2 separate regions of the Homo sapiens genome follow, and region 2 is linked to region 1. Evidence: fine-mapped expression QTL. Tissue or cell type: B cells. Region 1 holds a variant in brackets; the other region holds the start of a gene. All regions are shown on one strand. Distances are between the middles of the regions.

The links. PIP is the estimated chance that this variant, and not a neighbour inherited with it, causes the effect.
Region 2: GNB5 starts here. The variant in region 1 is fine-mapped to the expression of GNB5 in B cells (Fairfax 2012, PIP 0.95). The same link has a PIP of 0.9 or more in monocytes after LPS.

Annotation. Positions count from the first base shown.
Region 1 is chr15:52,117,998-52,126,102 of GRCh38, reverse strand. GNB5 (G protein subunit beta 5) reads left to right here. Exons shown (of 13, transcript NM_016194.4): 11 at 59-155; 12 at 1,464-1,630; 13 at 3,335-8,105. The coding sequence ends at 3,346. Among named protein-coding and RNA genes, the nearest start is that of BCL2L10, 9.3 kb to the right of the region's middle. The variant C/G (reference allele first, on the strand shown) is at 4,984.
Region 2 is chr15:52,186,735-52,194,839 of GRCh38, reverse strand. GNB5 (G protein subunit beta 5) reads left to right here and starts at 3,448. Exons shown (of 13, transcript NM_016194.4): 1 at 3,448-3,518. It overlaps MYO5C (myosin VC), which reads left to right. Exons shown (of 41, transcript NM_018728.4): 41 at 786-2,518. The coding sequence ends at 938. The region is part of intron 2 of CERNA1 (competing endogenous lncRNA 1 for miR-4707-5p and miR-4767); the gene reads right to left. RefSeq lists an enhancer at 2,851-3,350.

The DNA of each region.
Region 1 (8,105 bases):
CATCACGTCACCAAACTGAAGCCAGAAGTAAGTGCTTCTTTATTTATTTGCTCCCCAGTGTCGCCTCTATGACCTGCGGGCAGATAGGGAGGTTGCCATCTATTCCAAAGAAAGCATCATATTTGGAGCATCCAGCGTGGACTTCTCCCTCAGTGGTAAGATTTTATTTCAGAAACTTTTCCCAGGACTGTAAGACAGGACCAGAATGAAACTAGCGCTCCATCATCGCTCAGTTCCTTTTCATCAACTGAGCTTCCTGTGGACCAGTATGCGAAATCATCCATATTTGCACCAGTTTTCCTCCTCTGAGCTTCTGACCTCCCACTTTGTCCTGCCCCAGGCAACTTCACTCCAGGGGGAAATGAAGGCTGTGTACCCACCTAATGCTGTCCTTCAAGGCAATGAAGTGTCAGAAATTCACTTCCACAATGCTCTCAGGCATTTTCTCCCCAGCCTTTGCTTCTCTTCATGCCCCAAAGGGAACTTTTCTGTAAGGTGGAGGTGAAGCAAGAGTCCCTTCTTGGTGGGATACTGTGGCTCACGCCTGTAATCCCAGCACTTTGGGAGGCCGAGACAGGCGATCACTTGAGGTCAGGAGTTCAAAACCAGCCTGGCCAACATGGTGAAACCTTGTCTCTAATAAAAATACAAAAATTGGTTGGGCATGGTGGCGCATGCCTGTAATCCCAGCTACTCAGGAGGCTGAGGCAGGAGAATCGCTTGAACCTGGAAAATGGAGCTTGCAGTGAGCTGAGATCGTGCCACTGCACTCCACCCTGGGCAACAGAGCGAGACTCTGACTCAAAGGGAAAAAAAAAATGAGTCCCTTCTCAGTGCCTTGAAGCTCATGGCTCCTTTGTGGGAAGCTGCTGGTGAAAAAGCATAGCTCCAGAAGGATCATGTCAAAAAAAGAAAGAAAAATAGAAAGTTAAAGCAGAGGTAACAGGCTGGCTACCTGGACCACTCCATTTCCCCAGACACATCCCTAGACTAACTGCACGTGAAGTTCCTGCTACTGCCTGGAACATCTTTTCCCTGCCTTCTCTGCATGACAGACTCCGATTCAACCCTCAAGAGCCAACTCAAATGTCACTTTAACTTTCTCTCTTTAAACAAGTTTTACAAGTTGTTAACTAGCAAATGACTAAAAATAATTTACTTGTGTCTGCAGTGCCCTCCTTAATCCCCCTTCCTCTCTGGTCCCATAGCACTTTACGTGTGTAAAGCACTTGCATTATGGCTGTTACCATGGGATGCTACAGTGATCTGTTCCTTTCAGCCCCACATCCTCCAACAGGGACAGGGACTGTGCTTTCTCCCCTTTGAATCCTTGAGGCAAAGCACAGTGCCTAGGACTCAGTGCGCCTGAATCACTGCTTACTGAATGAGTGAGTAACAGTCATGTAATGAGAAACAGGAAGCAAGGAACTGGCTTAACAGCTATCATCTCACCCTGCTTCAAGGTCGCCTGCTGTTTGCTGGATACAATGATTACACTATCAACGTCTGGGATGTTCTCAAAGGGTCCCGGGTCTCCATCCTGTTTGGACATGAAAACCGCGTTAGCACTCTACGAGTTTCCCCCGATGGGACTGCTTTCTGCTCTGGATCATGGGATCATACCCTCAGAGTAAGAGGGATGGTTTTCTGTTTTCCTGTGTGTGAGAGGAGAGAGGACTGGTGACAGGCCTTCTGAAGCAGAGGGAAGGCTATCAGAGTAAGCTCAGGTGGGCCTGGTCAGCCTCGCCGAGCTCTCATTTCCACTCTGCCCACAGCCACAGAGGGAATGGGTTGCCTGGAGAGGTAGCGAGTGCTGCATCAGTGCAGGTATTCTCGCACAGATTCGACAACTGCGTATCAGCCTGTAGGTGAGGGAATAGTTAGGCTTGATCATCCAGAAAGTTCCTTTTGACCCTAAAAGTCTGATTCTTGTGATTCTAGCCTTTGGCAAACCACAGATAACCAGTCTCTCCTCCTATAGTATAGGGTTCTTATTACGATTATTGACCTTGTGATGACAAGGGTCACAAATCCAGGAGGCTGTGAAGCCCCTGAAATTATTACTTTTTTCTTCCTTTTTTTTTTTTTTTTTTTTTTGGTTTTTCTATAGCTTAATCTTGGAAATGAAGCCCCTGAAATTATATGCCAAATTTGGGGTGTATGCCTTTTGTCCTCGTGGCTTTCATTAAATTCTCAAAGAGAGCTCCATAACCTTGTTGAGTGTTGGCTCACCCAAAATACTACCAAAATAGCCTGTTTAAGCTGGGCATGGTGGCTTATGCCTGTAATTGTAGCACTTTGGGAGGCCAAGTCAGGCGGATCACTTGAGGTCAGGAGTTCCAGACCAGCCTGGGCAACATGGTGAAACCCTGTCTCTACTAAAAATACAAAAATCAGCCAGGCGTGGTGGCATGCACCTGTAGTCCCGGCTACTCGGGAGGCTGAGGCTGGAGAATCGCTTGAACCCAGGAGGCAGAGGTTGCAGTGAGCCAAGATCATCCCACTGCACTCCAGGCTGGGCAACAGAGCAAGACTCTGTCTCAAAAAAAAAAAAAAAAAGTAGCCCATTCATAGAGCAAAGCTAAATTTATTGCTTACCTCAGTGTGGAACATCAAGAATTGGTAGAGGTGTAGTGGCATCTCAGAAGAGGATGACAAAGGCATGCATGAGGTTTTTTTGGTCTGGTTTAAGGCAGGTCTTTGTTGGGGGGCACTTAATTAGGATTGGACAACTTTGTGGCATAATAGTTTTAGGATTGCTGGATGCAGGGGTGGGGGAGGGTTTCGAACAAACCCTTTAAAACTAAATAGTCATTTGATGCTCTATATTGTCCTGAGACATGGGTGTGTTTTCTAAAGAGGGTAAGTTGAGTAGTCTAGTGTTAGGATAGAGAAAAGGATTTTTGCAAAATTCCTGAAACAAATAAAAAAGTTATCTGTGAGTTCATCTTCCTGGGTAAGAGTGTCCTAAGTGAGTAGTCATGTTAATGTATATGGTGAGCTGTATGGGTTCAAATGGTTTTGGTTGTCAATCTGGAAGAGTAGCTAGGCCCGTAAGGAGGCTGCAGATGCCCCACAGACAATTAACTAAGGGAGGAGAAGATCAGGTCCAAAGAAGCACCTTTGCATTGCTAGGAGTACAGTGTTATCCTTCTAAGGCACATGAGCACCCTATTTTGGATGGAGTGTGTATGTTTGTGTGTGTGTGTGTGTACACACACATATATGTATGCCCATGCATGTGTGTGAATAGACTAATTTTATCTCTTTAAGCTCAAGTTTTATAAGTTGTTAACTACAAAGGTCTAAAAACTATCTGTTTGTGTCTTCACAGGTCTGGGCCTAATCATCTTCTGACAGTGCACTCATGTATACCTGAGAATTTGAAATCTTCACATGTAAATAGATATTACTTCTAGAGGAGCTTAGAGTTTATTGCAGTGTAGCTTAGGGGAGCAACCCATGGCTCACAGGTCACTAAGCGTCTCCAATATGACTATTAAAACTGTCACCTCTGGAAATACACTAGTGTGAGCCTTCAGCACTGCGAGAATACCTTCAAGTACAGTATTTTTCTTTTGGAACACTTTTTAAAATGTATCTGTTTTTAAGGTTATTCTAAATTATAGTAGCCTCAACTCATTCTGTCACCAGTAGAATTCAGCAGTTAATATATTCCATATTATTTCTTTGAATCAATTCATTTTCAGAGCACTTTAAAGTCTGATATTTCTCGATGTGCACTGTGATGCCTGGAACCTTCCTCTGGAAGTGCTGATTTTATGGACTGAGGACTGGTGACTGGTCTGTGATAGAAGCAAATTCCAATTCCAAATGTAATTAGACAAAAATCATTTTTTTAGAATGTGTTTTTATTGTAAAAGTATCTTTTTCAGCTTCCTGTTCTATTGTCTTTTTTCAGATACAACATTTTTGTCTATGGTGAACTGCTGTAAATGACGCAGAGAAATGCCTAAAAAGGACAGGTGGTTTGACTCATGGATGATGATGATGTCACTGTGCCACTTGGACAGGGCGTTTTCTCTGAATTGAAGGGAAAGCCAATGGTGTTTGTAAACAAATGCTTCTGAGAGCAAAGAAAAGTCTTCTGTGTGGGAACACAAGATAGTAAACTTATTTAAAAACCTATTAGTAGAATTAGTGGAAACACTTAGGTTAAAGTGAATCTTGTCCATATAAATTATATTCATGGCCGGGCGCGGTGGCTCACGCTTGTAATCCCAGCACTTTGGGAGGCCGAGGCGGGCGGATCACGAGGTCAGGAGTTCGAGACCACGGTGAAACCCTGTCTCTACTAAAAAATACAAAAAATTAGCCGGGCGTGGTGGCGGGCGCCTGTAGTCCCAGCTACTCGGAGAGGCTGAGGCAGGAGAATGGCGTGAACCCGGGAGGTGGAGCTTGCAGTGAGCCGAGGTCGAGCCACTGCAGCCTGGGTGACAAAGCGAGACTCCGTCTCAAAAAAAAAAAAAAATTATATTCATATGTATTGCATTGCAATTATAATTACATATGCAGATTGATTGATAGTCATGAATAATAACGTCTGCTCCTCTTACATAGAAAAACGATATTAAAAGAAGATCTTCTCTTTATTTGAGACTCAGAATTCCTTCTAGAAGAAGGAAGTGCTTTTTGTTATAGGATCCCTTCTTTTCCTTTTTTTGTTTTTTTGTAAGATGTAGATGCTTATTCTTTGCTTTAGAAAACTTCTCACTTAAAAAGATGGCATGCACCTAGGGGAATAAAAGGTCACCTCAGACACCAGGTGTCATTCCTGGTGAGGCCTGCCTCGTCGGTGGCCTGGGGTCTGCCGGCAGGTTCTGGCTGCACCTGAAGGCTGCGTGCACCTTGTCCCCTGGACAGGTCTCCTTTCCTGGCCCTGCTCCAGCCCAGCCCTTCTTCTAGTGGTAGCTCTGGCTTTGCAGGCCCAGCTCCAGGCCCTGCTCCTCAGAGAGACTCTTC[C/G]AGAGCTGGAGCTGGGCACAGCCATAAGACAGGACTGGACCAGATGCTCCTGTAAACATCCAGGGGTGTGCCAGGCCCACCCTCACAACTGCTTGTTCAGGTATCGTGATGGGCCACTCGGTCCAAAATCAGCCAGGCCATCTTTTCCATCATCTCACTTCAAATAAACATAATAATTATATTTGATCATTTGCAGAGCAGTTACTGGTGGTTTTATTGTACACTGGGGTCTGGGGTAGAGAGAGAAAAATGAAGGGCCTCTGCCTTCCTCCAGGGAGCCCAGAGAGAGTGCTTTTTAGTCCCAGTAGATTCCAGTCTGGGCAGGGGCTCAGGAAATGGGCCCAGTGTCTGGCCAGCTCCTGCCAGGTGCTGAAGGGGTCAGGGCACCATGGGATTCCTGAGCTCTGCTCCAGAATGTCCCACAGTGGCCCCTGGTGCAGCTGGCCTCCTTGTGGTGGCATCCCCAACCCTCTCTCCCACAGCCATTTTTTTTTTTGTCTCTGCACTGTGCCTTCCGGCTCCCAGAAGTGCAGGAAGGCACGAGAAAGGAAGGAAAGGTGGCCCAGGGAAGCACATTCCAGGTTCCATGTTTGGAGAGGTGGAGAGCATCTTCAGGATATGTGCAAAGTAGACTGTGACTTTCCAATCCAAAAAGCCACTTTAAGGGCCCAGGGAAAGTATTCCAGAGAATGCTTCCACTCCCCGCATGGGCAGGAAGCCTCCTTCGCTGTGAGCATGCGCTCTCGCAGTGGGTGCTGTCGGGATTTGCTGATGAGATACTTGATTTGGACTATGTGACAGCATGTGGAGACTCAGGGGTAAGCTCCATGGGATAGATTGTATTTTGCAGATTGAAAATAATGCTGAGTGCATTTTATAATCAGCTTTTCTTTTTTCCAGAGGACTTGGGGATAAACCTACCAAACCAATTGTGGTGAAGGGGCCAAACAGATGGGCCCCCAGGGGTGTAGAGCCTTGGGCAGCCCCCTCCTGGGCCAGAAAAAAGAAAGTTCAGGCAGAAAGGTGTGGGTGATGGGTATTTATGGGAAATATCTGTGACATGAAGCCAAGTCCAGTGCTTTAGAATGCGCGGTCAGCCTCTCACCGGTGGGGCCCTGGCAGCCGTCCCTCTTCTCCCAGGCGAGCCAGAGGTGGGCATCCCGTTGCCACTGCCCTCTTCCCGCTCTTCTACCTCCTTTGCACCCTTCTCTAGGTTATAAGTGGCTTAAAACAGCACAGGGTTGTAAGGGCCTTTGTGTCCCGGGCTCTCATAGTTGCCAGGCCAGCTGGCTGAAAGGTGGCACCACCGATACTGGGACTCCTCTGTGAGTTAGAGGGATGCCTTGGTGACATAAGAGGGCTGGCCTTCATTCACACCCACCTCTGTCACGGTCACAGAATATATGATAATATCTGAGTTTTTCTCAGCCTCAGTTTCCCCATTTGTAACATGGGATGGGACTAAAATATGTAAAGTGCCTACCTCAGCCTTTAGCACATCTTCAGGAAGGGTTAGTTCCCAGCTTCTCCCTGTGTCCTCCTCAGTCCCCTTCCTATTTGCCCCCCTCCCTTCTCCCTCCACCTATCTTCCCTCTTTCTCTTCCCTTCCCCTCCTCCTCCCTCTCTCCTCCCTCTCTCCCATTTCCCCCTCCCTCCCTCCCATCTCCTCCTCCCTCCCTCCCATCTCCTCCTCCTCCCTCCCATCTCCTCCCTCCCATCTCCTCCTCCCTCCCATCTCCTCCTCCCTCCCATCTCCTCCTCCCTCCCATCTCCTCCTCCCTTCCTCCTGTCACCCCTCCTCCCTCCCTCTCATCACCTCCTCCCTCCCTCCCATCGCCTCCTCTCTCCTTCCTATCTCCTCTTTCCTCTTCTCTGCCCCCTCCCCCTCTCCTCATTCATCCGGACTCCTTTTTCTAACCCTTCTCAATCTTCCCCCATTCCTCATCTCCTCTTCCTCTGTCTCCCTGTTCCACCTCTCTCCTGGTCTCCTTCCTTCCCCTTCTGCTGTTTCTCCCTCCCTCCTCCTCCCTTCCCATTCCCCTTCCCCCAGCACTTCCTTTTCTCCCCATCTCCTCCCCATTCCCCTTCCCCCAGCTCTTTCTTTTCTCCCCATCTCCTCCCCATCCATAGGCAGCCCCCACTCATATAGCAAATTAGTAATTCTCATCAGTTAGAGCTTCGTCTGGGCTAGTGGTTCTCAAACTTTTTGGTCTTAGGATCTCTGTACACTTTTTTTTTTTTTTTTTTTTTACGTGGAGTTTTGCTCTTGTTGCCCAGGCTGGAGTGCAGTGGCGCGATCTCGGGCTCACTTCAACCTCCGCCTCCTGGGTTCAAGCGATTCTCCTGCCTCAGCCTCCCGAGTAGCTGGGATTACAAGGCATGCACCACCACGCCCGGCTAATTTTGTATTTTTAGTAGAGACCAGGTTTCTCCATGTTGGTCACACTGGTCTCGAACTCCCAACCTCAGGTGATCCTCCCACCTTGGCCTCCCAAAGTGCTGGGATTACAGGTGTAAGCCACCGTGCCCAGCCTACACCCTTAAAAGTTATTGAGGACCCCAAATAACTTGCTCATTGTGGATTGTATCTATCCATATTTATTGTATTAGAAATTAAGACTGAGAAAAAGTTATAAAACACAAGAATACAGATGCACACGTTCCATTAGCCATCAAGGTGATCTTTCTCCCATGCCAGTAGTCTCTGGAAAATTCCTGAGAGGATGAAAATAAAAAAATCACCCATACAAAAAAAAAAAGTGTCAATATTATTATGAAAATAGTTTTGACCGTGAGGACCCCCTGAAAGGGTCTCAGGGACCCTCGGGGGCCCTGGATCTTGCTTTGAGAACAGCTGATCTGGGCTAATGAGCCCTTTTCCAGCCCCTCTGTGTGAGACCTCCCAGAAACCACTAAGGGCCTTGGAAGAGCTTGGCAAAGAAAGAGGTGACAGGATGATTGAGGAGAGCCACCCTAGGGAAAGCCTTCAGAGGAGGCTTTGGGACAGCCCCGGTCGGTGGAGGAAGTCCCAGAGAGGCAGTCGGAAGGGCTAGGGACCAGCTGAGGCCTGTGACCTGAAAATCCTTTCAAAAGAGGACGCCTGGAAGCCTGGGGAAGGCACA
Region 2 (8,105 bases), 69 kb before region 1:
TCTTCGTGTACTTCAACCAAAATAACATATCACAACAGATTGAATGCAGAAGCAGATATATATGATATATCGTATATATGATAATATAGCATATATATTAAAATATGGCGTATATAATATATGGTTATATATGATAATATATTAAGTCAGACATGAAAGAGATTTGCAAAAATAGAAAATACCACTTCTCACTAAATTTTCTTTGTTTTGGAAACTTATGTTTAACATGTGTAGAGCTTATTTTAATGAATTAATAAATCATTTTAATTACTAATATGGCAAATACCGATATACACATATACACAATGTATATTTAATTACTAATATGGCAAATGCCAATATACCCATATACACAAAAGCTTTTGGGGCCTCAGTCATGTTTTAGTATAAAGCGGTCCTGAGACCAAAAAGGTTGCAAACCCATGAATGAAGAAGAAAGATGGGTTCAATAAAAATGTAATACTTGAAATCTACTCATGTTTGACCTTAGAATTATGCCATGAGAATAGATTAGAATAGAAAACAGATTTATGGTCAACTCATCCCATGGGAAATTAACTTCTGAAGTGAAACAGGACAAGTTAATTGTTCTGAGAGCTGATCTGGAAGCCCTGGATAGACTTTGGAATTGTGCTGTTGTTAAAAAGTTCTCATGTATGTCATTTCATGTGATGGTGCAAGGAGCTCTCCACTAGAGATAGCTGTGTTTTGCCTTGACTTTCAGGTAGCAGTAAAGCAGAACATGTTAGTTTCCTTACTCATTTTTCCTCTGATTCTAATTTCAGGCTCTCCTAAATAGCCGGGAGGATTCATCACAGCTGATGTTGGATACCAAATATCTCTTTCAAGTCACATTTCCTTTTACCCCCTCTCCACATGCTCTGGAAATGATTCAGATCCCCAGCAGTTTCAAGCTAGGCTTTCTGAATAGGTTATAGCAGGAGAAAAAGTCAATGCACTTTTTCTTCAAAAGCTAAGTGAAGGTTCAATATGAGGGATGTGTTTTATTAATTGGCAGTGGAAATTGGAATGTGATTTAAGGAAGAAAACAGACTTTTCTCAAATGGACCACATCATCTCTCACTCACAGTGACAATGCTGCTCCTGTAATTTTGTAAGAATTCACACACACCAGCTGTATTTGGAAAAGCCATGTCTCACTCTCGAATCTCAGCTGGTTTTCACTGAAATTCCTGGAGGGCTCATATTTTCTTCCACGTGCCTCTTGATCTGTTCTGTCTTGTGGCAGGGCTCTACCAGGAGGGAGTGAGATCTGGGGACACAGTGGCTTCCAAGTTTTCTAAGGTTCATGTGAAACCTGAGTACATTTACAAAGCTGCAAGTGGATTCTAGTGCTGAGTCTTCCAGGAAAAAATCCCGTTTGGCCACCGTGACCTGCCAAAAGTTCTCTTGCCCCATGCCTGCTGGGGACAGAAGGTTTTCATGAACTCTTTTTACTGAAAATGCCCTGCATTTAAAAATGTTTATTTTAGACCCTTCTAAATTTTTTTTTTTTTTTTTTTTTGAGACTCCGGAGTCTCGCTCTATCGCCAGGCTGGAGTGTAGTGGCATGATCTCGGCTTATTGCAACCTCCGCTTCCTGGGTTCAAACAATTCTCCTGCCTCAGCCTCCTGAGTAGCTGGGACTACAGGCACCTGCCACCACGCCCAGCTAATTTTTGTATTTTTAGTGGAGACAGGTTTCACCATGTTGGCCAGGATGGCCTCGATCTCTTGACCTCGTGATCCGCCCACCTCAGCCTCCCAAAGTGCTAGGATTACAGGCGTGTGCCACCGCGCCCGGCTGACCCTTTTAATTTTTAAGAGTGTTCAATCCGAGATGAATCATTTGAAGTATTTTTATATGTATATCTATTTAAAACTAATATATTATTAAAGCTTAATTGCCATGCCGTTTATCTTCTCTGAAAGAACTTCAAATCTTACCTGCCAACATATTCACCATAATTTTTTTATTTTTTAATACCTTTCATACAATAACTTTTTTAAAACAACCTCAGATTGAAAAAGCAACCTAAATTACTTTCGCTCTCTAATCAGCATTTCAATGTATTTATTTTTAAATTTTCTCAAAAAGTAACTAAAAAATTGTGTCGGACCCTACTTTTGAGAAATCTACGTTTCCCAAGTTTTATGGGAACTGGCTATTCCTTGTCCCGGCACACCTTCTCATTCCTTCCTTTCAGAGCCTAAAACCTCATTTGATAAGCACTCCTAGTCTCTGGCCTGTGGATCCAGTGCTATTCTGTCACCAACCTAAGAATCCCAATTGCACCTTCTGTTTCTGACAGTCACAGGTGACAGCTGTGATTCTATAATACAGACTGGTGTCTTAGAGGTAGGAATAATACATGATTATGAAGCATCACCCTGCTAATACATAATAATGTCTTTTTATATTATAAGTGATTGAGTTTAGTTCATTTCAATACATTGTACATGAAAAAATGAAAAGTAGAACTTTGTAATACTTTAATCAATAAAATTAATTACCAAATGAATTGGGTCAGATTCTTTCATTGCGAGGAGATGACATGTCTCTTAAGTGTACAAGTTGTATGCCTTTCTTTACGGTCATACTGAAAGATGCTAGAATCTTTATAGATTCATAATATCTCATTTAAAGTATATTAAAATGTTTAGAGAAGAAGTAAATATGTCATAAGTGCTGGCTTAGGCTGTGTCTCCAGGGCGCTTCCACACTGTCAGAATGAGGGGCTACTTGGCAGAGAATTGGCAGGGTTTCTGATCCTGAGCTGCGGCCTCCATGCCCTTTCTAGACCTTCCCCACACCATGAGGAGCCATCACTGTTGGTTTTCGGCTTCCATAACTCAGGATTTATGCCTGTTTTATAGCACTTACCCTGGACTGGAAGCCAGAAATGCTGCCCATTTCCTCTGTAGGCCTGTGAGCCCCAGAGGGCAGGTGCCACATCCTCCTCATCCCTGCCTTCATCCTACTGCTGATGAGGTGGGAAGAGAACTGAAGGAGCAAAGTCCCGTTGGAGGACTGTGTGTGTGTGGTGGGGAGTCAACCATGGGAAAAAGTAGGTCATGTTTGGGGACAGGGAGACCTGTGGAGGCTGAGGAGTTTATGTGTGGAAAAATGGGGAAAGGGAGGCACTCATCCCACAGTCTTGATCAGTTCTACAAAGCTGACAGTGGCAAGGAGACCAAAATAGAGAAATGTTAAGAACATGTGGCCCAGGTGAATGTGAGGGCTGCTCAGTGAGTGGGCGCAGACACAGAGGTCAAACCTGCCAAGGCCTCCCTCCACAGAGGGGCTGGGCAGGTTCCAGGGGTGAGTGAGGGATGCAGATGGCAGTGCGTGCCCAGCAGGGAGCATGGAAGTGCTGTGGAGGAAGGAAGCAAGCTGAGCAGCACTCCAGAGAAGATAAGGAGATTAGCCAGTGGGAGACGTGCTTCACACCTCAAGCTGCGCGCTGGTCCTCACCTCTCACCATCTGCTCTGTGGCTCCCAGTGCTGACTCTGGAAGGTATGTGCATGCTGACATTCGGTTAAAATACTCCAGCTTTTGAAATGCTCAGAAAAGCATCCAGATGAGTACAGGGCACAGTGTTAGCAGGTCTTTCTGTGCGGTGGGAGCATGGGTGAGGGGTTTTGTTGTTGTTAATCCGTAGAATCTAATTTTTCTACAATACACATGAATTTATTTTGAAATAGTAAATTTCAAATATTTCAAATTGAAATATTTCAATATTTTTTACATTAATATTGGCATCAGGAAAGAGATTAAGCATACTTAAAATCACTAAGTCAGTTTTAAAATTTGATCCAGGTGACACATGGCAACATAAGCCTCTGAGTACAGCTTATGGGGTTAGAAAGAGGTTTTTAGTTGTAAGTCTGAGATACATCCACATTGTGTGTATCAGTTATTTTTTATTCTATGCTCATTTCACAGTTTCGTCTGTGACTGGTGAACATTTGGGTCTTTCAAGTTTAGGCCTTCTATGAATAGCTGCTATGACATTTATGTTTTTTTTTTTTTTTTTTTTTTTTTTTTTTTTTTTTTTTTAAGGAAATAAGCATTATTTTCTGTGGTGTATGTATGCACGAGTAGAATTGCCTGGTCATAGACTATATCCGTTTCACTTTAGTAGCTCCTACCAACCAGTTTTCTACAGTGGTTATACCGACTTATACTCCCACTAGCAGAGAAAGGCAGTTCCAGTCTCTGCATCCTTGCCCACACTTTGTGTTGTCAGGCTTTTTAGGTTTTCTGATGGCTAAGTAGTTGTATCACATCGTAGTTTTACTTTGTATTTCTATGATGACTAATGATAATGAGCACCTTTTTATATGTTTATTGACCATATAAGTATCCTCATTTGTGAAGTGACTACACAAGCCTTTTGTCCATTTTAAAAATAATCTTTGGGCTGGGCGCGGTGGCTCATGCCTGTAATCCCAGCACTTTGGGAGGCTGAGGCGGGCAGATCATGAGGTCAGGAGATTGAGAGCATCCTGGTTAACACGGTGAAACCCCATCTCTACTAAAAATACAAGAAATTAGCCGGGTGAGGTGGCGGGCGCCTGTATTCCCAGATATTTGGGAGGCTGAGGCAGGAGAATGGCATGAACCTGGGAGGCGGAGCTTACAGTGAGCCGAGATTGCGCCACTGCACTCCAACCTGGGCGACAGAGCAAGACTCTGTCTAAAAAAAAAAAAAAAAAAATTTATTGAGATATGATGTCCACGTTTTGTTTCATGTTTTAAAACCCATCATTTTAAAACATATATTTCAGTGTTTTTTAAGTTTATTTACAAGGATTTGCAACCATTGCCACTGACTCCAGAGTATTTTCATCACCCCGAAAAAGAAATCCCATACCCCTTAAGCAGCCACTCACTCTCAGCTCCCTCCTTCCCCCTTATTCTCTCTTCCCTCCACCTCGCAACTACTCATCTGCTTCATGTCTCTATGGATTTGCTGATCCTGTACACTTCATATAAATAAATCATACAATATGTGGCCTTTTGTGTCTGGCTTCTGTCATAGGATAGCGTTTTTAAGGTTTGACCATGTTGTAGCATGTGTCAGAACGTCATTCTTTTTTATTGCTGAATAGCAGTCTACTGGAGGGATAGACATTTTGTTTTTCATTTGTCGGTTGGTGGACACTTGGGTTGCTTTCACTTTTGGCTAATAATGCTGCCATGAAAATTAGTATGTACATTTTTATGTGAACATATATTTTCTTTTTTTTTGTTCTGAGACGGAGTCTCACTGCATTGCCCAGGCTGGATTTCAGTGGCGCGATCTTGGCTCACTGCAACCTCCATCCCCCAAGTTCAAGCAGTTCTCATGTCTCAGCCTCCCAAGTAGCTGGGATTACAGGCACCTGCCACCACGCCTGGCTAATTTTTGTATAGTAGATATGGGGTTTCACCATGTTGCCCAGGCTGACCTCAGGTGATCTACCCGCCTGGGCCTTCCAAAGTACTGGGATTACAGGCATGAGCCACCACGCCCAGCCAGTGAACATACATTTTCAAGTATCCTGGGTATATATCTAGAAGTAGGATTGCGGGGTCTTATGGTAACAGCTGTATATTTAAGTTTTGAATAACTGCCAAACCGTTTTCCACAGCTGCACCATTGGAAAACGGCTACCCCACTTTACCTTCCCACCAGCAATGTATGAAGGTCCTTTTGTCCATTTTTAATTGAGTTAATGAAGCAGTATTTTAAAAGTAAAAACTGGATATACCCTATGTATCCAAACACGGAAGTTGGTTTAATAAATTATGACACTCCACAGCATAGAATAATGCTGAACCTATTACCAAACAAGGTTGATCTATAAGTGTTAACAGAATAAGTTAGATGAAGAAAGCAAGTAGCCCTATTTGCATGACTACCAAAGCTGTATCTATGTGTTTGTGCCAGAAAAGTCTGGAAGAATAAACAACAAACTAAGGGCAGTGAAAATGCAGGGCATGTGATGGGGGATTCAAGTTTTACTTTTTCATCTTTGGTACTGGTTCTTTTTAAAATAAACACGTATTTCTGTGGTAATTTTTTAAGTCACATATTTAGGTAAAACAGATATCAAAGAAAGTTTGTGCTTGGCATAAAGTTATTAGGGGAAGGTTTGAGAAGTTCTATGAACTACTGCAGAGCAACTTCATGTCAAAATTTGTTAAATGGGGCATTTCTGTCTTTCTTGTCAAAATGCTCATCGAAACATTGGCTCTAGCTGTGAAAAATTCTCTCATCATAAAAAGGATATTGACAATAAGTACAACAAAGTACTAAAATTTAGCTGATACAAATACTAAGTGAAAAACATCAAGATACAGAAATGTAATCAGTATACATGAACAGTATGACCTCAGTGGTCTCAAATCTATTCTTGCTACACCAAAATGTAAAAAGAAGTTTCTCTGAGTGGTGGGATTATAGGTGATTATCTTCTTCCTTATATCTTTTTTTCCCCCAAACTTTCTACAATGCATATGTATAATATTTACAGTTTAAAAATGCTTTAAATTTAGTTTGTAGCTTGCCCATGTTTAACCAGTGAGGTCTAAAATGCTAGCTATGTGATACGACTTAAGGCCCATAGGACTCAAAAATTGGAGTCTCCGTTAAAAAATGGTGTTTTCCAGTAATATGCAATGACGTGAAGATGAAAATGCTATTATATAAAGTAGTATATGGCATATAATTCCAATTTGTTAAAAAGTACACACATATATACTTATAAAGATACTAGAGGAAAACATAAAATGCCAACAGGTCAGTTGTTGGTGTAGGGCATGTGGGCGATTTACTTTCCCCTTTTTGTGTCCTTCTGTTTCCACTTATTTATTTATTTATTTTTAATTTTTAATTTTCTTTGAGATGGAGTCTCACTCTGTCACCCAGGCTGGAGTGCAGTGGCATGATCTCAGCTTACTGCAACATCTGCTTCCCGGCTTCAAGTAATTCTCCTGCCTCAGCCTCCCGAGTAGCTGGGATTACAGGTGCGCACCACAACGCCAGGCTAATTTTTGTATTTTTAGTAGAGATGAGGTTTCCTTATGTTGGCCAGGCTGGTCTCAAATTCCTGGCCTCAAGTGATCCACCCGCCTTGGCCTCCCAAAGTGCTGGGATTACAGGCATGAGCCACCACACCTGGCCCTGTTTCCAGTTATTTATAATGAACATTATCAGCATCTTTTATAATTTGAAAAAATTCAAAATTTAGTTTGAGAAGAAAAACATTGCCTCTATCTAGATATGGAATATCGGCTATCTTTTCAACTTGTCTTTCTCTCCCGTGCCTCCCAGCCATCCTTCTATTCCTCCTCCACTTGGTGCCATAGGTTCCTCTCGCCTTCCATTCCCATAGCTGCTCCTCTGTCCGCAGCTCATTTCCTCTTCTCCAGAACATAGCAATCTCTTAACCTAGTTTGTTTTCCTGCCGTCCCTTCTCTCTCTCTCTCTGACCTACTTCTGGAAGCACAAATGCTGGAATAATCCACGTGGATGACACTGCTCCCTTGCTTAACAGCCTGTGGCTCACCGTCCTAATGCTATTACTGGGAGTGTTCAGCCCAACCTTGTTACTGGCTGCCTTTACAGGGCTGGGGAGTGGGATGCAACAGTTACCAAGCCCCACCATGGGCCAGGCTCTGGAGGGCAGGCCCTTTTTTGTTAACTCACCTTTTGTGACAAAACCATGCAGCTTGACCATGCTAGCTTGGAAATAGGGTTCCAAAGTGTGTATTCATGCTACTTACAGACTCAGCTCTGCCGCTGACCTTGAACTTGTTTAATCCCCCTGCTTTTCCTCAGCTGTAACACAGATGTCCTGCCTCCCTCCCAGGGAGAGGCGAGGGCTGGGCACTCTGTGGCAGTTGGTAGCTGGTTTCCTTGCGAGCTGTTGTCCCTAAGGGATGCCCTGTACACCTTTGTTGCCCAGAGGTCTCGAACTGTGCTGACTGCCCCTTTGCTGTAAGAGCTCAGCCCAACTCATGAGCCCCCATTATCTCTCCAGCCCCAGGGTGGGCTCCACATGGCAGACGTTCCTCATCAGAAATGTCCCCAACTGTCACCTCCCCCATAAATGC